Homo sapiens: one gene and its partners. The protein of the gene in region 3 interacts with the protein of the main gene of each other region in a pairwise test. Each region holds a gene or a part of one and is shown on either strand. Other genes may lie near its edges.

What was found.
Region 1: the proteins of LAPTM5 (region 3) and RNF168 interact in a two-hybrid assay, tested with the Homo sapiens proteins (one large-scale study listed by BioGRID and IntAct).
Region 2: the proteins of LAPTM5 (region 3) and ANKRD13A interact in a two-hybrid assay, tested with the Homo sapiens proteins (one large-scale study listed by BioGRID and IntAct).
Region 4: the proteins of LAPTM5 (region 3) and WWP1 interact in a two-hybrid assay, tested with the Homo sapiens proteins (one large-scale study listed by BioGRID and IntAct).
Region 5: the proteins of LAPTM5 (region 3) and SMURF2 interact in a two-hybrid assay, tested with the Homo sapiens proteins (one large-scale study listed by BioGRID and IntAct).
Region 6: the proteins of LAPTM5 (region 3) and AIG1 interact in binary tests that used the Homo sapiens proteins (3 or more experiments, as listed by UniProt).

The regions. Positions count from the first base shown.
Region 1 is NC_000003.12:196,470,526-196,472,768, forward strand, and holds part of RNF168 (E3 ubiquitin-protein ligase RNF168), read right to left. Parts: coding exon 1,294-2,243; 3' UTR 1-1,293. UniProt on the Homo sapiens protein: E3 ubiquitin-protein ligase required for accumulation of repair proteins to sites of DNA damage. Acts with UBE2N/UBC13 to amplify the RNF8-dependent histone ubiquitination.
Region 2 is NC_000012.12:110,023,430-110,026,929, reverse strand, and holds part of ANKRD13A (ankyrin repeat domain-containing protein 13A), read right to left. Parts: intron 2,885-3,500; coding exon 2,818-2,884; intron 1,189-2,817; coding exon 1,107-1,188; intron 1-1,106. UniProt on the Homo sapiens protein: Ubiquitin-binding protein that specifically recognizes and binds 'Lys-63'-linked ubiquitin. Does not bind 'Lys-48'-linked ubiquitin.
Region 3 is NC_000001.11:30,751,275-30,754,774, reverse strand, and holds part of LAPTM5 (lysosomal-associated transmembrane protein 5), read left to right. Parts: intron 1-2,414; exon of another isoform or gene 2,415-3,500. UniProt on the Homo sapiens protein: May have a special functional role during embryogenesis and in adult hematopoietic cells.
Region 4 is NC_000008.11:86,345,547-86,349,046, reverse strand, and holds part of WWP1 (NEDD4-like E3 ubiquitin-protein ligase WWP1), read right to left. Parts: intron 1-3,500. UniProt on the Homo sapiens protein: E3 ubiquitin-protein ligase which accepts ubiquitin from an E2 ubiquitin-conjugating enzyme in the form of a thioester and then directly transfers the ubiquitin to targeted substrates.
Region 5 is NC_000017.11:64,652,308-64,655,807, reverse strand, and holds part of SMURF2 (E3 ubiquitin-protein ligase SMURF2), read left to right. Parts: intron 1-3,500. UniProt on the Homo sapiens protein: E3 ubiquitin-protein ligase which accepts ubiquitin from an E2 ubiquitin-conjugating enzyme in the form of a thioester and then directly transfers the ubiquitin to targeted substrates.
Region 6 is NC_000006.12:143,067,389-143,070,888, reverse strand, and holds part of AIG1 (androgen-induced gene 1 protein), read right to left. Parts: intron 1-3,500. UniProt on the Homo sapiens protein: Hydrolyzes bioactive fatty-acid esters of hydroxy-fatty acids (FAHFAs), but not other major classes of lipids. Show a preference for FAHFAs with branching distal from the carboxylate head group of the lipids.

The DNA of each region.
Region 1 (2,243 bases), on a different chromosome or scaffold from region 3:
ATCCAGCCTCAGCCTCATCCTCATCTGGACCCGTTTCTGACCAACCACCCAATCAGTTTCAATGATCCAGACTGTCAGTCACCCCATCCAGCCTCAGCCTCATCCTCGTCTGGACCCGTTTCTGACGACCTAATCAGTTTCAATGATCCAGACTGTCAGTCACCCCATCCAGCCTCATCTGGACCAGTTTCCGACGACCCAATCTGTTTCAATGATCTGGACTGTCAGTCACCCCATCCAGCCTCATCCCAGCTCTTAACTCCTTCTGCATAGTTCAGTTTCCTTTCTGGCAACTAATTCCCAATTTCCTAGAAAACCCTGATTTTCTGATTTAACACTGATTCGAATCCACTTTAAACCAAAGGAAACAGGCCGGGCGTGGTGGCTCACGCCTATAATCCCAGCACTCTGGGAGGCCGAAGCAGGTGGATCACCTGAGGACAGGAGTTCAAGACCAGCCTGGCCAACATGGTGAAATCCCATCTCTACTAAAAGTACAAAAAAAAAAAAAAATTAGCTGGGTAGCTGGGTGTAGTGGCACATGCCTATGATCCCAGCTACTCGGGAGGCTGAGGCAGAAGAATCGCTTGAACTCGGGAGGCGGAGGTTGCAGTGAGCTGAGATCGCGCCATTGCACACCAGCCTGCGTGACAGAGCAAGACTCTGTCTCCAAAAAAAAAAAAAAAAAAAAAAAAAAAAAAAAATCTGGGATTTCCCACATATGAATATGAATCCAAATTTTGAAACTCCGTCTAAAAAAAAAAAACAAACACCAAAGGAAATGCTACAATGCTGAAAATTGAATTAAATTGGAGATGGAAATTAGATTACTTTAGGAAAACCTTTTGAGTACTCTGTAAACATTGGACAATAGCAAGAAAATGGATTTTAAACCCTGCATGGGTTCCTTAATCACTCAGAATAGTATAATCTTGCTTTGATTACCAGTCACGACAAAAAGGTGAGCAAAGGCCATAAAACATGCAGTTTTTGGAAAGACAATGGCACTTGAAGATTTCCTGGAGTTGGCCAAAGCTTAAGATATCTCTAAGAATTGTAAAGCTTAATACACATCTGTTATTAAGAAGGGAAACGACAGGGGACCCCTGCTTACCGCTGAGCTGTGCAGAAGCTCATGTGTCTATGCAGTCCTTACAATCACACAGACCTTCATTAAGGACAATGAGTGTGCCTAGAGAGCAGCATGAATGACACATGGATGAAGATTCCATGATAGGAAAGAGCTTCACATTCCAGCTTTACTAGATCACAAAGCACTCCCTTTACCAGGCCTTACTTTGTGCATCTCTGAAACATCTGAAAAACACTTTTCTGTGAAATGCTAGGCTGTAGGGAGTGAGCACTTTTGGATACCTTACAGTGATCTCTAGTAGAATTTGGCATCTTTCTTCTATTAACTGACTGCTTCAACTGCATCTTTAAAGACACTTGCCTATTTTTGTCCCTTGAGCCTCTCTCTGGTGTTGGATGCTTTGTGTGAGTTTGCCTTTTGAAGTTCCCATCTTTGGGATTCTTCCTCTGTCCATTTAGCACTTTGTCTGGAGGGGAGGATGTAGCGCGTAAGTGATACTCATCTGGGGATCCTTTTTGCCGGTTTGGCACCATTTGCTCTTTATCCACCTCCTTCTGAAGTTGTAATGCCAATAACCTGTCCTGTTCTTCTTGTTTATGTCTCTCAAACAGTAGATGCTCCAAATCTATCAGTTTTTGGGTAAAGTTTATTTCTGTTTCCTCTTGATCTGGGGAAGATTCGGGGGACACTTTTCTTCTTTTTGCAGAAAAGCATGGATCCTTGACTGCTTCAAAGGAAGATTCTTGGTTTTTTCTTTTGGAAATCTCCTTACTGATCAGTAGGCACGACTCTTCATTTTCTGTCTCACCTGTGTTGTTTCCATTTGTCTGTGTCACCCCTGATGTGGGGGCGCACCCACTTTCTGTTCTGCCACAAGGCATAACTGCAGTTTCTTTCGAGTAGGGAACTCTGGTTTTAGGTCGCTCGTGACTTAAGACACATAACTCTTTCCCATGATTGCTTGGTCTTGTTTTGACGTTTCCTTCATGGTACCATTCGGCACCACAGGCACATAACCATGGCATAGGGGACTCTATTGAAGAATCTGCACCTTGTTCTCCAACTCCAAGGGATATCTGTGGAGAAAGTGTCGGCATATCTTCTATTTCTGTGTCTTGCCCTGTTGGGCTTTTCCTATCACTACTGTCAA
Region 2 (3,500 bases), on a different chromosome or scaffold from region 3:
CAAGAATGAGTCAGACTAAGGAAATTTTCTTTCCTTTTTCTTTTTTTTGAGACAGAGTCTAGCTCTGTCACCCAGGCTGGAGTGCAGTGGGACAATCTTGGCTCACAGCAACCTCCACCTCTGGGGTTCAAGCGATTCTCCTGCCTCAGCCTCCCCAGTAGCTGAGACTACAGGAGTGCGCCACCACGCCTGGTTAATTTTTGTATTTTTAGTAAAGATAGGGTTTCACCATATTGGCCAGGCTGGTCTCAAACTCCTGGCCTCAAGTGATCTGCCCACCTTGGCCTCCCAAAGTGTTGGGATTACAGGTGTGAGCCACCGTGCTCAGCCAGGAAATTTTTTTTTTTTTTTTGAGATGGAGTTTCACTCTTGTTGTCCAGGCTGGAGTGCAATGGCACGATCTCAGCTCACCAAAACCTCCGCCTGCCAGGTTCAAGTGATTCTCCTGCCTCAGCCTCCTGAGTAGCTGGGATTACAGCCATGGGCCACCACACCCAGCTAATTTTGTATTTTTTTTTAGCACAGATGGGGTTTCTCCATGTTGGTCAGGCTGGTCTTGAATTCCCGACCTCAGGTGACTCGCCCACATTGGCCTCCCAAAGTGTTGGGATTACAAGCATGAGCCACCGTGCCTGGCCAGAAATTTTTATAAAAAAGAAGTTAGGGGCCAGGCACGGTGGCTCACGCCTGTAATCTCAGCACTTTCGGAGGCCGAGGTGGGTGAGGATCACCTGATGTCAGGAGTTCGAGACCAGCCTGGCCAACATGGTGAAACCCCGTCTCTACTGAAAATACAAAAAATTAGCCGGGCGTGGTGGTGGGTGCTTGTAATCCCAGCTACTCAGGAGGCTGAGGCAGGAGAATCACTTGAACCCAGGAGGCAGAGGTTGCAGTGAGCCAAGGTCGTGCCACTGCACTCCAGCCTGGGTGACAGGGCGAGACTTTGCCTCAAAAAAAAAAAAAAAGAGAGAGAGAGAGAAGAAGTTAGGGTTAGGCTTAACACAACCCAATCACATTAACCCTAAACTTAACAGAGCCAACAAAGAGTTCCCTCTAGGCTTAAAAAATAACAACAAAACAGGAGGTGGGAGGGTGGTGGTGATTACCTTTATATCTCTTTTTTTCCTCCTCGGTCAGATGTTCTGTGCGTATTTTGGTGATCACATTCACATTGTTTACTGTGTAAACCTGAGAGGTGTATGCGAAAGAAAACAGTGACACAGGGAATCAAAACTCCAAAAGTAAGCACAGCAAAAGCAAGAATGCTGAAGCAAAAAACAGAAAACAATCCAGCAAAATAAAAATGAGAAATGGTTAACTATCATTAGGATCCTTCAGAGAAAGTATATAAACTATCAACTGAAAAATGCATCAGCAGTTACCTCCCATGTTTGACAGTTTTAATACTAAGGAGTTAGCAGTGACAGGCTGCATCTTCCTGCTTGCCCTGCTGTGGCTAAATAGTCTCAAACAAATGCCCTGCAATCTAGGTTTCCACCTGGGTTTCTATTAAACTAAGGTACCCAAACCAGGATCCTGTACTTCTGTTGGTAATTTTTTTTTTTTTTTTTTTTGAGACAGAGTCTCCCTCTGTTGCCCAGGCTGGAGTGCAGTGGCGTGATCTCTGCTCACTGCAGCCTCCGCCTCCTGGGTTCAAGCGATTCTCGTGCCTCAGCCTCCAGAGTAGCTGGGATTACAGGCATGTGCTACTATGACTGGTTAATTTTCGTATTTTTAGTAGAGACGGGGTTTCACCATGTTGGCCAGGCTGGTCTCAAAATCCTGGCCTCAAGTGATCTGCCTACTTGGGCCTCCCAAAGTGCTGGGATTACAGGCGTGAGCCACTGCACCCAGCCTCCGCTGGTAGTCTTGTAATACTAGTATGACTCAGACAGCCATCTGCTGGGCAGAAGAGAAAGGTATGAACACAAGGTTCTCTATAGACTTATGAGCTGTAGAGAAAACCAGCAAGTCACTATTTAAAAGGCATTCTGTGCACTGACAAAAATTATTGTAACTGCCAGAGCAAATGCTCTGTTATCAAGGATAACTGGGGAATATGGTGGTCTAGAAAATCAAACATAACAGTTAACAAAGAATTCTCTCTATATGCCACGTGAGGAGCCCCAACATTCAAAGCTGCAGAAAACACACTCAGCACTATGACAAGTGCTTCTAAATGTATCTTGCTGAGCATGACGTAAGCCTTTCTTTGCTCACTCAGAGGCCACCAGAGGACCCTGCAGCACTGGGCTCCAACACCAAAAGCCATCAATCCCTGTTGTACTGAGGGACTGAAAGGCCAGGAAACAGCTTTCCAGCTGACAAAATGCCAGATGACTGGATCAACAATCGTCTCCACTATTACAACTATGTTTTAAATGCACTGATGTCATGCAAATGGGCTGTGCGCCTGCTGATTACAATTAAGCTGATTTAACAAAAAAGAGACTCAAAAGCTACTACACAACATTTGAACACATGTGAAGTCTAATCCTTCCTCTTCCTTTTTTTTTTTTAAATAATTAAGGGAATGACTAGCTTGTCATTCCTACCAGAACAACTGGTACCTGTACTCATTTCTCTACCATATTGTTTCTCTTTAGCATAGCTACAGACCTCCTCAGGGCATGCTATCCCATTTTCTGAAAGTCAAATAAGACAAAATCAAACATCCAAGTGAGAGACACATTAGACAGTTCTCATTCCCCAGAGCATCTCCATGGCACAGATGCATGAAAAAAATGGGAACAGATTCCTCATTTGCATAGAAGCTAAATAGCTATATTAAATCTTATTTTAAGAGTTTCCTTTTACCTTTGCTTCGTAACCATTAACAACTTCTGCTTTATCTGTCCTCCAGCCCCAGAATCCGGATTTAGTTCTGATAAAAAGTGAACACCACAAATTTCTACATGTACAATATGCCATTCAGATTTATATCTGTAGCCTTTATAGTTTTTTTCCCCCCCAGCTTAAGTTAGTGAAGGACACTTGGAAATCATGGTCCTATTGTCCACAGGAGGCGGTTAGCAATGACAGATGGCTTATGCACCCTCCACCCTCCTCCCACAGTTATTAATCAATTTGCCTCACCCCAGGCATAGAAAGCCTCCAATCTTGGCTTCTTTACAAAACTGCCAGCATTGAGGACAAAGGTGGTGACATTTATTGGACAGCAGTCCCAAAGAAGTGACTGAAGATGACCAGCATCCAAGGGCTTGCCACAAGGTGGTAACCAGGTCAGAGCATTTATCTGGGTCATCTTAACTGGGGACATGCATGTCAATGGTGGGATCTCCACAAGTAGCCACATCTCACTCGAGGAATTCTTAGAACAATGAGGCACAGACCATCCTGCTCCTTACAAAAGAGCAGGTGGGCCAGGAACTCATCACTGTGGTGAGCTGCTTGGAGATGCCATTAGGTCTGCAAAATAGCTGAGTCACATGTTTGGGCAGGTTTGGTGCAGCAGGGCAAAGGATGTGAAAAACAGATTT
Region 3 (3,500 bases):
ATTGAGTCATGAGGGCGTTATTACATGAGGGAAGCCTGGTCCGTAGCTTTGGGCTCGGGCATCTTCCTCAGGATGTCAGTGGGTTTGTGTAGAGGATTCTCTGGGTCACCCAAACTTGCACACTTTGGGAACCCAGCAAACTTTCTTTCTTTTTTTAAAAAATCTATTCTTTTTTTCAAAGTTCAGTAACTTGCCCATCTTTTGTGGTTTGATTTGTTTTGTTTTGTTTTTGTTTTTAAGAGATGGGGTCTTGCTCTGTCACCCAGGCTGGAATGCAGTGGTGCCATCACAGCTCACTGCAGCCTTGAACTCCTGGGTTCAAGAGATCCTCCCACCTCAGCTTCCTGAGTAGCTAGGATCACAGGCGCATGCCACCATGGCCAGCTAATTTTAAATATTTTTTTTTGTAGAGACAGGGTCCCACTATGTTGCCCAGGCTGGTCTCAAACCCTTGGCCTCAAGTGATTCTCCTGCCTTGGCCTCCCAACGCGCTGGGATTACAGGCATGAGCCACCGAGCCCAGTCTAGAGAAATTTCTTAAATTGGGTCTCTTGGGTCCTGGCTTTTTGTCAACCTGAAGCACGTTCTAAGTCGATGGTAGAAAGTGGACACCCCCAGAAGACACTTTTGCCCAGAAATCTCTTTCTTCCTGACCCCTCTTCCCCAGAGTGCCCGGAATTCCACTGTCAGAAATGCATTGTCTGGGTTAAAAAACTTAACACCTGCTATGATTTCAACAGTGTCAAAACAGGATACGTCAAAACTGGGCGAGGAGGAAATGTATTTGGGTTCTAGGATAGTGAAAGCTCTATTTTTTCTACTTTTCTGTATTTTCCATATTTGGTACAATGAGCACGTACTTAGAACGGTTTTAGATTTACGAAAATATTGCAAACACAGTACAGATAGTTCTTGCGTCCCCCATGCCTAGTTCCTCTATTGCTAACGTCTCAACGTTAGTGTGGTGCGTTTGTTGCAATGGGTGAATGAATATTCGTGGGCTGTTATTAAAGTCAGTGCTTCACCCCTATTTCCCCAGCTTTCCTCTTACATCCTTTTTCTGTTCCAAGATTGCATCCAGGATGCCGCGTTACATTTAGTCTTCACACTTCCTTAGGTTCCTCTTGGTATGATGGTTTCTCAGATTTTTCTTGTTTTTGATAATCTTGACAGTTCGAGGAGTATTTGTCAGGCATTTTGTCAAATGTTCTTCAACTGGGGTCTCTGGTGGTTTTCTCATGATTAGTCTGGGAATGTGCTTTTGGGAGGAAGACCACAGAGATGATGTGCCAGTCTCAGAACATCGTACTAAGAAAAGGTTCTGCCAACTTGACTTACCACTGTTGCTGGTGACTTTGAGCCCCCGGCTGAGGTTACTCCTTTGTAAAGTTACTCTTTTTTTCTCCTTTCCATGCTGTATGTTTTAGAAGGAAGTCACTATGCTGCTCCAAGCAACTCAAGTTTGATGAATGGGGAGTTCCGCCCCACCTCCTTGAGGGCAGAGTAGCTACATAAATTACTTGGAATTTCTCAAGGAGATTTGTCTGTACTCCCAGTTTATTATATAAATAAATGATTTATTTATATTACAGGGACCCAGGGATCTTTACTGTATGCTTTGGGTTATAATCCAATGGTACTTTACTTTGTGGCTCAAGTATACTACTTTTAAATTGGAAAAAAAAAAAAGTACGGCCAGGTGCGGTGGCTCATGCCTGTAATCCCAGCATTTTGGGAGGTTGAGGCGGGTGGATCACTTGAGGTCAGGACAAAACCCTGTCTTTACTAAAAATACAAAAAATTAGCTGGGCATGATGGCGGGAGCCTGTAGTCCAAGCTACGCGGGAGGCTGAGGCAGGAGAATTGCTTGAACCTGGGAGGTGGAGGTTGCAGTGAGCCGAGATCGCGCCACTGCGCTCTAGCCTGACAGAGTGAGACTCTTTAAAAAAAAAAAAGGTAAAGCATTCAAATCATAGTATTTGAAGAAGGAGTCTCTATTGCCCTGACCTCGTGCAGGTAAGTTCACCCATGTGCCCAGCCCCAGGCCGGGATACAGCCCTGACTCATTCACGGCCTCTGCCCTTGAGGGGCCAGTCTGCCAAGGAAAAACCGACGAGGACAATGGATGACATTGCTGGCTATGATGGGGGCACAGATGTAGGGCTGGAGGTTGGGATTCTGGAATAGCTTCTTGGAGGAGGTCTGAGTCTTAAGGATGAGTAGGGCTTTGCTTGGGCACCTTGGAAAAGAGGTCACGCTGGGCGGGGGGAGTAGCATGACACAGGCTTGGAGGGGAAGGACCCTGCAGTGCTTCAGAGACCTAGCAGGTTTGTCAAGCTGGGTTAGGAGGGGTGGCCACGAGGTGTGTCGGGGAGGAGGGTGGAGAGGTCCCCAGGGGTGGGACCTGCCCGAGTCCTTTGCTTTTACAAGCTTCAGAGCTAAGAAGATGGATCTCTCTTCGGCCTATCAGCTCATTTTGCAGATGGGAAAACAGGTCCAGCAGGGCCCCTTACTTGCTCCAGGACACATGGAGAGATGGGGCAGGAGCTTGCTTCAGGTCCCCCTGCTGGCACACAGGTGTGTGGAATGATCCAGAAAGTGGGCAAATGAGTTCCTTCCCTGCCCCATGGCTGGGGTGGTGTGTCTGTCTGGGAGGCCCTGCCCTCATCCAGCCTCCCACCATTCATTTCTTCTTTATGGTCCAGTTTACGGGAAGCTTCCTCCTCCAGGAAGCTCTCCTGATTTGTCCTCCTTAGAACTCCTGGGGCTCTTTTCTCTGCTCCACTTTGGGGGCAGTGATTTGTGATTGAAAGGAACACAGGCCCATCTCCATTACTTACCAGCAGTGTGACTTGAGCAGGCGGGCACCTTTGTTATCTGAGCCTTGCCTTCCTCATCTGTAAATGGGGCCAGTGGTCCCTGCCTCAAAAGTGATCATTTGGAGGAGACCCTAGCGAAGCCGGGTGGAGGGCTAGCAGGTGAGTGCCTGAAGTGGGCTGTGGAAGAAGAACACAAGGCCCCCCGCCCCTTTTTTTTGAGACTGAGTCTTGCTCTATCACCCAGGCTGGAGTGCAGTGGCGTGATCCTGGCTCACTGCAACCTCTGCCTCCCGGGTTCAAGTGATTCTTGTGCCTCAGCCTCCCAAGTAGCTGGAATCACAGGTGTGTGCCATCATGCCCGGCTAAGTTTTGTATCGTTAGGAGAGATGGGGTTTCACCATGTTGGCCAGGCTGGTCTTGAACTCCTGACCTCAAGTGATCCACCAGCCTCAGCCTCCCAAAGTGCTGGGATTATAGGCGTGGGCCATAGTGCCTGGCCCCACTCCTCTGTTGAAAGTTCATCTGTTTGGGGTTGAAAAATGGGTCCAAACTGCCAGGTGGGGAAAACCCTGGGTGAGAATCTGTTAGAACTTGCCACCTTTATGTCCAGTGCCCCTGGGCTGGACAGAGAGGCCACGTTCTCTGCCACTGCAGCTCTGTGCGCTTCACGGAGGGGTGAGG
Region 4 (3,500 bases), on a different chromosome or scaffold from region 3:
CCCTCTCAAAAAAAAAGATCTGGTTGCTTCTGTTTTGTACTCTTGTGAGCCCTAAGCCATCAGCTACCAGGTAAGGCCAGCAACTCTGCTGGAAAGGCTACTTGGAGAGAAAAGCAGCCATTAGAGTGATCACCAGCAAAACCTGCCCAACTGAGCCCAACCCAGGAAAGCAAAACTGTAACAAAGAAAATGGTTGTTTTAAGTCACTTGGTTTAGGGCTGTTTGCTACACAGCAGTACATAACTGAAACAACACTCACCTGGTTCCTTGTGTGTTCTGCATAATTTGTTCAAACCCCAGAAAAAGGAGAGGTATAATTAATTACACTCCGCAAAATTACAACCTGAGAAGATAAAGTTCTATGCCCTTGTTAATGTTAGTGATTCCACTAAACTCCAGGTTCCAAGAGGAAAGGCTTCATATCTGTCATCTCAACACTGTACTCCCAGCACCTAGAAATATGTCTGGCACATAGTAGGTACGCCAGTATGTGCTGTGAGTGAACTGTAGATTTAAGAAATGTCAAGACGGCCAGGCGTGGTGGCTCATGCCTGTAATCCCAATACTTTGGGAGGCTGAGGCGGGCAGATCACCTGTGGTCTGGAGTTCAAGACCAGCCTGACCAACATGGAGAAACCCCGTCTCTACTAAAAATACAAAATTAGCCAGGTGTGGTGGTGCATGCCTGCAATCCCAACTACTTGGGAGGCTGAGGCAGGAGAATCTCTTGAACCCAGGAGGCGGAAGCTGCAGTGAGCCAAGATTGCGCCATTGCACTCCAGCCTGGGCAGCAAGAGGGAAACTCCGTCTCAAAAAAAAAAAGAAAAAAGAAATGTCAAGACTAAATCAACAAATGCTACTCTTCCTTATAACTTAAAAACCATGCTAGTCTTCCTTATAACTTAAAAACCATCTGACGTATGGTTTTACATTATACATTCCCTAAAAAAGTTGTTTAAATGTATGAATTGAAGCATCCACTAAGGAGGGCTTTTTAATATCTTTGGGTTTTTTTCAATGGTAGAGCTTATGATCTAATACAAAAATAATAAAATATCATGATACAGGTTGAGTATCCCTAATCCAAATATCCAAAATCTGAAATACTCCAGTGAATGTTTCTGTTGAGTAATGTAGGTGGCTCAAAGTTTCCCATTTTGGAGCATTTCAAACTTTGAATTAGGGATACCCAATCTATATATATTTTGGAAATTAGATCCTCATTTATATCCTCAAAAAATGTAAATTTTTGAAGACTAAGCTTTTATAAAAGGGAAACACAAACTTCATCTGTAAAAGCAACAGAATTAAATTCAAAATTTTCAAAAAAATAAATATCTACATTTCACCAATGTACTTTTCCAGATAAGAAATCAACTTTTGCTTTATCCTTGACAGGAGAATAACTATTCTGTGGTACAATGCTTACAAATTTAAATATCACCTACCAATAGCCACTGCAGTGAGATTACCATTTTAACACAAAGGAAAAAACTGACAAGTTTACCTCTACACGGTACAAAAGTTTAACACATTCCAAACAGGTAAATTCAAATCCTTCACATACAGCTCTTAACTAATGATGTTCCATTGTACATGAAGAGTAAGAAGTCTGGTGGGAAAAGAATACTGACATAGGAACAAAAATAAGGGTTTTAGTTGTAGTTCTAATTGTGGCCACTAACTAGCCACATACTTTGGAAATTTAACTTTTTAAACTTTTTTTTTAGCCTCAGCATATTCATCCAAAAAGCAATGATTGGCTGGAAGCGATGGCTCACGCCTGTAATTCCAGCACTTTGGAAGGCCATGGTGGGAGGGCCACGAGTCCAGGAGTTCGAGGCCAGCCTGAGGAAACACAGCAAGACCCCATCTCTATAAAAAATTTTAAAAATTTAGCTGGGTGTCATGACATACACCTGTAGTCCCAAGTACTTGGGAGGCTGAGGTCTAGGCTTCAGTTTAGCCATGACTGTGCCACTGAACTCCAGCCTGGGCAACAGAGCAAGACCCTGTCTCAAAAATAAATAAATAAAATAAAATAAAATAAAATATAAAGCAGTTATTACTTCCTAACACACCAACTTATCAGTTGTCATGAGAACCAAATGATAAATATAGTTATTATTTACAAATGTGAAATGCTATACTAACATAAGGTATAGTACAATTCTTAATGCCAGCAAAAACAATAAAATTCATCTGTGTATGTTTTTATCATTTTTCCTCCATTAAGTATTAGTAACTAGTTCCTTGGATACCACTATAAAGGGCAATTTATTGGATTTTCCAATGCTCATTATAATTGTATCATATTTTTATACAAAGAGTAAAAAACAACAGTCTTTCTAATAATTATGAAATCAAAGTTTATTAACATGTAATAACATGCTATGATTACCTATTACCAGGGAGATAATCTTACAGGTGCAGAAAAGTCAACTGTTTACCAATCGCACTACACTTTAACCGTACTAGCTAGCTACTTAATCCACCCAAAAAAAATTGAGTAGGAATCTTCATTTACATTGTGAAGTCTCCATTTTTATTTGATAAAGGCTTCCTGAAAGAAAAGAATATTCTGAAGGTATAAATGAACAGAGAAGATAAAGTTCTTTTTTTTTGAGACAGAGTCTCGCTCTGTTGCCCAGGCTGGAGTGTAGTGGCGCAATCTCGGCTCACTACAAGCTCCGCCTCCCGGGTTCACACCATCCTCCTGCCTCAGCCTCCCAATAAAGTTCTTAAAGTTTCTTATTTCACTTACATCACCTCTCTCCTCCCTACTCCCCAGCCCAAAGTGAGACATACAAAGAAAGTAACAATCCAAATGAATGATCTGATATTGCTAACTGCTCTTCTCTACCCAATTCATCCCTCAGACTCACCAGCTCTCATGCACATATTAAACAAGGAGAGTAGATACTCTGATGAAAGTCTAGGACTCGAGAATCACAAAATGTTAAAAACTAGAAGGAATCTTGTGGGATCATCTAGTCTTACTGACAAGGTCATTTAAAGGCAGTAACTATATTTAATTGATGGTAAAGCCACTGCATTATCTTCATACATGAAAGAACACCATCATTGTCAACAATCTCCTGATTCCACTTTACCCACCAGCTGAATGATGCTTCAGGCAAATCATTTAAACTCCAGGAATAGTTTATTGTGTAATATAATAGCAAATAACATTAGTCAAAATTCTCTGTAAACTGTAAACCACAACACAAATGTAATATTGTGTTTCTGTATATATACAGCATATCTCTACAGTAAGAGTTCTTATCAGTACACAGAAGAACCTGAAGGTTCTACTGTTTTAAAAAGCTCCCAGTAGGCCCGGCAGGGTGGCTTACGCTGTAATCCCAGCACTTAGGAAGGCCAAGGCAAGCTGATCACTTGAGCTCAGGAGTTCAACACGAGCCTGGGCAAAATAGTGAGACCCCATCTCTAAAAAAAAAATACAAAAATTAGCCGGGTGTGGTGGCAAGCGCCTGTAG
Region 5 (3,500 bases), on a different chromosome or scaffold from region 3:
TTCTCCTGCCTCAACCTCCCTAGTAGCTGGGATTACAGGTGCATGCCACCACTCCCAGCTAATTTTTTTTTGTATTTTTTTTGGGTGGAGATGGGTTTACACCATGTTGGTCAGATTGGTCTCGAACTCCTGACCTCAAGTGATCTGCCCACCTTGGCCTCCCAATTTCTTTTCATTTGTTTTGGTAGTCTTATTTTTTTCTTCCACATAAATATTAAACTTGTTAAGTTTAATAAGAAGTTTCATTGGGGCCGGGCATGGTGGCTCACGGTTGTAATCCTTGGACTTTGGGGAGGCTGAGGATGGTGGATCATCTAAGGTCAGGAGTTTGAGACCAGCCTGGCCAACATGGTGAAACCCTGTCTCTACTAATAATACAAAAATTAGTTGAGTGTGGTGGCACATACTTGTAATCCTAGCTACTGGGGAGGCTGAGTCACAAGAATCGCTTGAACCTGGGAGGTGGAGGTTGCAGGCGAGATCATGCCACTGCACTCCAGCCTGGGCGACAGAGTGAAACTGTGTCTCCAAAAAAAAAAAAAAAAAAAAAAAAAAGACATTTCATTGGGATTGTCATTAGAATTGCTTTACTTTGGGAAAAAGAAGTATCTAAGTTTATTTAGTTTTCTCACCCAGGAACATGATATGTTTTTTACATTTATTTAAGCTTTGGCCCATATTGTTCAGGATAGCTTTATAATTTTCTTCCTGTGTTTGAATTTAATTTCAGATAATTTATATTTGTGTGATTTACGTTGTGTTTTCTAATCCTAGTTATTGCTTGTATTTAGGAATGCAGTTATATGTATTTTGCTTGATTAGAAGAATTTTGGCTGGGTGTGGTGACTCACGCCTGTTATCCCAGCACTTTGGGAGGCCAAGATGGGAGGATCACTTGAGCCCAGGAGTTCGAGACCAGCCTGGGCAACATAGTGAGACCTCATCTCTATATTTATTTATTTATTATTATTATTTTTTGATACTGAGTTTTGCTCTTGTTGCCCAGGCTGGAGTGCGATGGCGCCATCTCGGCTCACTGCAACCTCTGCCTCCTGGGTTCAAGCGATTCTCCTGCCTCAGCCTCCTGAATAGCTGGGATTATAGGCATGTGCCACCGCGCCCGGCTAATTCTGTATTTTTAGTAGAGATGGGGTTTCTCCATGTTGGTCAGGCTGGTCTCAAACTCCTGACCTCAGGTGATCCGCTTGCCTCGGCCTCCCAAAGTGCTGGGATTACAGGCATGAGCCACCGCACCCAGCTGATGGCTGGTTTTCTAGGTGTCAGTGTTTGGTACTTGTTACAGTTGAATGTTAACACTTAAAATTTTTCTTTTCTCTCGGATTTCTCTCCAACATATAAGTAGTTGAACAAAGTGAGAAATTTTATTTCATTAAAAATTTTTTAAATACGAGCAGTCTTCTGAACAAGAATAGTTTCAGACCAACTCTGTTTTAGAATAGCTTCTGATGGCATTGGCTACCTTTTTTAAAACCACATTTGATATTATATTAAAAAGTGTCAACAGATAATCTGAAGTTTGGCAGTTTGGTTTGGTTTTGTACAAAAATTGGTAGCAGACATAAAGTTTAAATTTTTAAATAAACCTCGATGATTCATTTTTAGGGAGGAATTACCACGTGGATGATTGCAATCATGCAATGTTCTTCCCATTTCTTCCCAAAAAGTTTCTTCCCAAAACATTTTCTCTTACCTCTTTGTAGCCAGTTGTCTTCTTCAATACCGAGAACTTGTCAACCACTGATCTGTTTTCGGTCACTATAATTTTGCCTTTTCTAGGATTTTGAGTAAATGGAATCATACTGTCTGCAGTCTTTTGGGTGAGGCTTCTTTTAGCGTAATGCTTTTGAGATCCATTCATGCTGGGTATCAGTACTTTGTTCCTTTTCATTCCTGAGGAATACTGCATTGTACACCAATTTGTTTATCCATTTATAAATATCTGCAGACATTTGTTGTTTCCAGTTTTTGGCCATTACGAATAAACATTTGAGTACATGGCTCTTTGTGAACATGTTTTTCTTGCCCTTGGGTAAATGAGTGGGATTGTTGCATCATACAGAAAGTATGCATTTTAACTTTTTAAAAATCTGCTGGGCGGATTGCTTGAGCCCAGGAGTTTGAGACCAGCCTGGGCAACATGGCAAAACTCCGTCTCTACAAAAAATACAGAAATTGGTCGGGTGTGGCCTGTGCCTGTAGTATCAGCTACCTGAGAAGCTGATGGAGGATTGATTGGGCCTGGGAAGTTAAGGCTGCGGTGCTGTGCTCACACCACTGCATTCTAGTGTGGGTGACTCTGTCTCAAAAAAAAAAATTTTTTTTTTTTCAAAGTTGTACCATTTTGCATTTCTACCAGCATTGTATGAGTTTCAGTAGTTCCTCATCCTAGTCAGCACTTGATACTGTCTTTGATTTTAGCCATTCTAATTGGTAGGTACAGATATTTCATGGTACTTTAATTTTTACTTCCTTAATAACCTACAGTTTTAAGCACATTTTAATGGACTTATTTATTGTCCATATAATCTTTGGTGAATATCCAAATCTTTTGTTCATGTTTTAAAATTGGATTGTTTTCTTATTGAGTTTTGAGAATTCTTTATGTATTCTGGATATAAGCCTTTTATGAGATATATACTTTGCAAATATTTTCTCCCGGACTGTAGCTCCCCCACCGCCCCCCAAAAGATGTCCCAAAGAGAAGAAGTTTTGAATGCTGATGAAACCTGTTTATCAGTGTTTTTCTTTTGTGGTTCATGTTTTTTGAGTCCTAAGTCTTTTTCTAACCCAGAGTTCTAAAGATTTTCTCTGTGTTTTCTTCTGCATTATTTATAATTTTAACTCATACATTTAAACTTATTTTCAAGTTAATTTTTTAATATGCTGTGAGAAGTAAGTGTCATGATTTTTTTTTCATATGGATATTCTATTTTTGTAGCCCTATTTGTTGAAAATACTTTTGTTTCCTCCATTGAATTGTCTTGGCACCTTGGTAGAAAATCAGTTGACAGGCCAGGTGCGGTTGCTCATGCCTATTCTTTGGGAGGCCGAGGCAGGAGGCTCACATGAGGTCAGGAGTTCTAGACCAGCCTGGCCAACATGGCAAAACCCCGTCTCTACTAAAAATAAAAAATTAGCCAGGTGTGTGGCAGGTGCCTGTCATCCCAGCTACTCGGGAGGCTGAGGCAAGAGAATCACTTGAACCCAGGAGGTGGAGGTTGCAGTGAGCTGAGATTGTGCCACTGCACTCCAGCCTGGGCGACAGAGCGAGATTCTGTCTCAAAACAAACAAACAAACAAATCAGTTGACAGTATACATAGAATTCTATTTCTGGACTCTCCTGTGTTTTCTTTATGATTCTACCCTTTAAGTTTATTTGTTTTAACACTATGCTGTCTTGATTACTATAGCTTTAAAATAAAGCAGCTTTCAAACAAATTGAGTCTTTGATTTAGGATCTTGTAGTGCTTTGGAGCGG
Region 6 (3,500 bases), on a different chromosome or scaffold from region 3:
CAATTAAAATGTCAATTAAATATAAAAGGGTCACTGCCGTTGAATGTTTTTGTCTCTAAAATTCATGTGGAAGCTTAATCCCCAATCTAACAGTATTAAGAAGTAAGGCCTTTTAAGAGGTGATTGAGTCATGAGGATTCTGCCATTAATGGATTAATGTGTTAACAGATTATCACAGGAGAGTTAGTTATCACAAGAGTGGGTCTGTCATAAAAGCTAGTTTGGCTCTTTCTCTTATGCCTCTCTTGTCCTGTGATGCCTTCCACCATGCTATGGTGCATCAAGAAGGCTCTCACCAGATGCCAGCACCATGCTTTTGTACTTTTGAGCCTCCAGAACTGTAAGACATAAGTTTCTTTTCTTTATAAATTACCCAGTCTGTGGTATTCTGTGATAGCAACACAAAATGGACTAAGAAAATAAAAATTTCTAAAAAAAAATTAAAAATACCATTCACAATAGCACTAATCAAAAATAAAATAGGTATAAACCTAACAAAATACACGCACAAACTATATGCTGAAAACTACAAAACATCAATGAAAGAAATTTAAAAATCTAAATAAATGAAGAGATATGTCATGTTCATGGGTTGGAAAAGTAAATATTGTTAAGATGTCCAACTTTCCCCAAATCGTTTTATAGATTCAATTAAATTCTACTAAAAAATCCAAGTACAATTATCTGTAGATATTAACAAGATTATTCTAAATTTAAACAAAAAGGAAAAGTAATTAGAATAGCATAAACAAATTTTGAAAAAGAACAAAGTTAGATGATTCTCACTACCTGCTTCGAAGATTTACTATAAAGCTGCAATCAACAATGTGTGGTACCTGTGAAGGGACACACACATCAGTGGAGCAGAACAGAATCCAGAAACAGACACACAAATGTAGTCAATTGATTTTTGACAAAGGTGCAAACGTAATTCAATGGCAAAATGACAATCTTTTCAAGACACGGTGCAGGGAAAATTGCACAACATATACCAGAAAAAAAGGATTATAGATAAAAATGTAAAACCTAAAACTTTAAAACTTCTAGGAGGTTCCATAAAAAGAAGAAAAATGGTAAATTTTGTATCATCAAAATGAACTTTTGCTCTGTTTAAGACACTATTGATAAAATAAACTACAGACAGGAAGAAAACATTTGCAAATCACATATTTGCCAAAGAGCTTTCATTTGGCAAACATAAAACCTCTCAAAGCTTAATAATAATAAAACAACCCAGTATTTTTTAAATGGGCAAACTTCACAAAGAACATGAATATATTATTAAAAGGCACAGGAAAAGATAATTAACAACTTCAGTCATGAGGGGAACTCAAAACCACAATGAGATAGTGCTACACACCTATTAGAATGGCTGAAATAAAAGAAAAATTGACAACGCCACACTCTGAAGATACAATATGAGTTCCCATCTGTGGAGCTCTCACACATTGCTGGTGGTAATGCAACATGGCACATCCACTCTGGAAAATTGTGCATCTATCAAAACTGTGCATCTATCAAAACTATGCATCTGTCAAAACTTACAGTATTGTATACTAAAAAGAATAAATTGGCCGCGCGCGGTGGCTCATGCCTGTAATCCCAATACTTCGGGAGGCCAAGGCAGGTGGATCGCTTGAGCCCAGGAGTTCGAGCCCAACCTGGGCAACATGGCGAAACCCCGTCTCTACTAAAAATACAAAAAAATTAGCCAGGAGTGGCGGCATGCACCTGTAATCCCAGCTACTCGGGAGGCTGAGGCGGGAGAGTCACTTGAACCTAGGAGATGGAGGTTGCAGTGAGCCGAGATCACGCCAGTGCACTCTAACCTGGGCGACAGAGTGAGACTCCATTTCAAGAGAAAAAAAAAAAAAGGAATAAATTTTAGTGTATGTGGATGAAGAATTTATAAAAACCATATGTTCATATTGAATTTTTTGTTTTTTTAACAGAAGTATATATATGACTGAAAAGTCAAATATCAAAATACTAACATCAGTATCTCTAAGTGATATCCGTAATTTTAAAATAAGTTTTAAAGAATATGATTTTTTCTGATATCTGACTACATACGTATGAACACACATATACATATATACTGTAGTCTCTCTATGTTCCTGTATGTACTAAAGTTCCAAAATAAATACCATCCTGAAGCACTAAAATGCTAAGATGCAAGGAAAATTAGGGAGAATTAAGATGGACTATATTTTCTTCCCTGTATTTCTATTGTTTCCTGTATTTGCACAAATTTTCTATAATAAGTATGTATCGCTTTTGAAATTAATTTTTAAAATTATAACACAACCTGACAGACCTAAATATAAGACAATGTGAGTGCACTAATGCATTGTCTGACTTTTCAGAATTCCATGCTTCTGTCTTACATCTTGTTCAATTCCACAATGGATCTGATCAAGTGGTGTCTCACTTTCCAAGAAAGCTCTGCTTCCACCGCACTCAGAAGGGCTACCCTGCAGGTGAGGCATGGGCCCTTTAACTGTCTAACTACAGACTGCACAAGAGAGCTATGTTGTATAGAATCCTAAGCAGTAAGATTTTTCCAAGCACGCTTGGATCACATGAACATCTGATTCAATGTGGAAAATTGTACTGTTGTTCTTGCTTCCCCCAGAAACATGACATTTCAGAGGAACACACAGAAACAAATGAAAACCCTCAAGAGCAGTTACCAATTTTGCCAAATGTTATACCAGACATGGGGGAATGGCAGGAATGGGAAAAGAAGTGACCTCAACTAGTGGTCAGATGACTTTCTGTAATTTCAATACCATTTGCAACTAAGAGGGAATGGGTGATTATATCATCAACTATTTCCCCCACTCTAACAAAACCAGGCCCCTATTTTATGCCTGATCCAAAAGAAACATGCAAAGAAGGTGAAGAGGATTCTATGCAAAGCATTATTCTCACAATTCTTCCTCCAGGTTAGGAAAAAACATTATTTGAGCCTTCAAGTTTATATGCATATTTTAGGGTCAAGTCTGAGTCTCCTGAAGAAAAAAATTGCAATTTTACACTCTCTGTATAATATCCAAAACCCCAAAAAACAAAAAACAGAAAAAAATCCACCTAATTTTGTTCCCTGAGTACTCAATAAACTACTGGCCTTCACGTGGCAATGTGTGGTTTTGACTGGCAAAACTAAGTACCATAGTTACATAATGACATGCAGAATCTCTTCTCAAGGTATTTTATTTCCTATTTAAAATTAAGTCATGAACTAGAGACAAGAATATGTTTTATGATAAGTATGTAAATAAATATAAGACTAACTCAAATGCAAAATGTAGTATACTTAAGCAGCTTATTTTCCCTCTTTAACATTTTTTAAATGTCAAAAATTCTCAGCATGTCTAAAAGCAAAAATGGTATCGTCCAGGTACACTTGACTATTTCCTATTCTTTGAGCACCCCAAGCTTTTCCACATCTGAGACTTTATTTATCCTCATCTCTCTCTGGTTTTCTGAAATTCCTT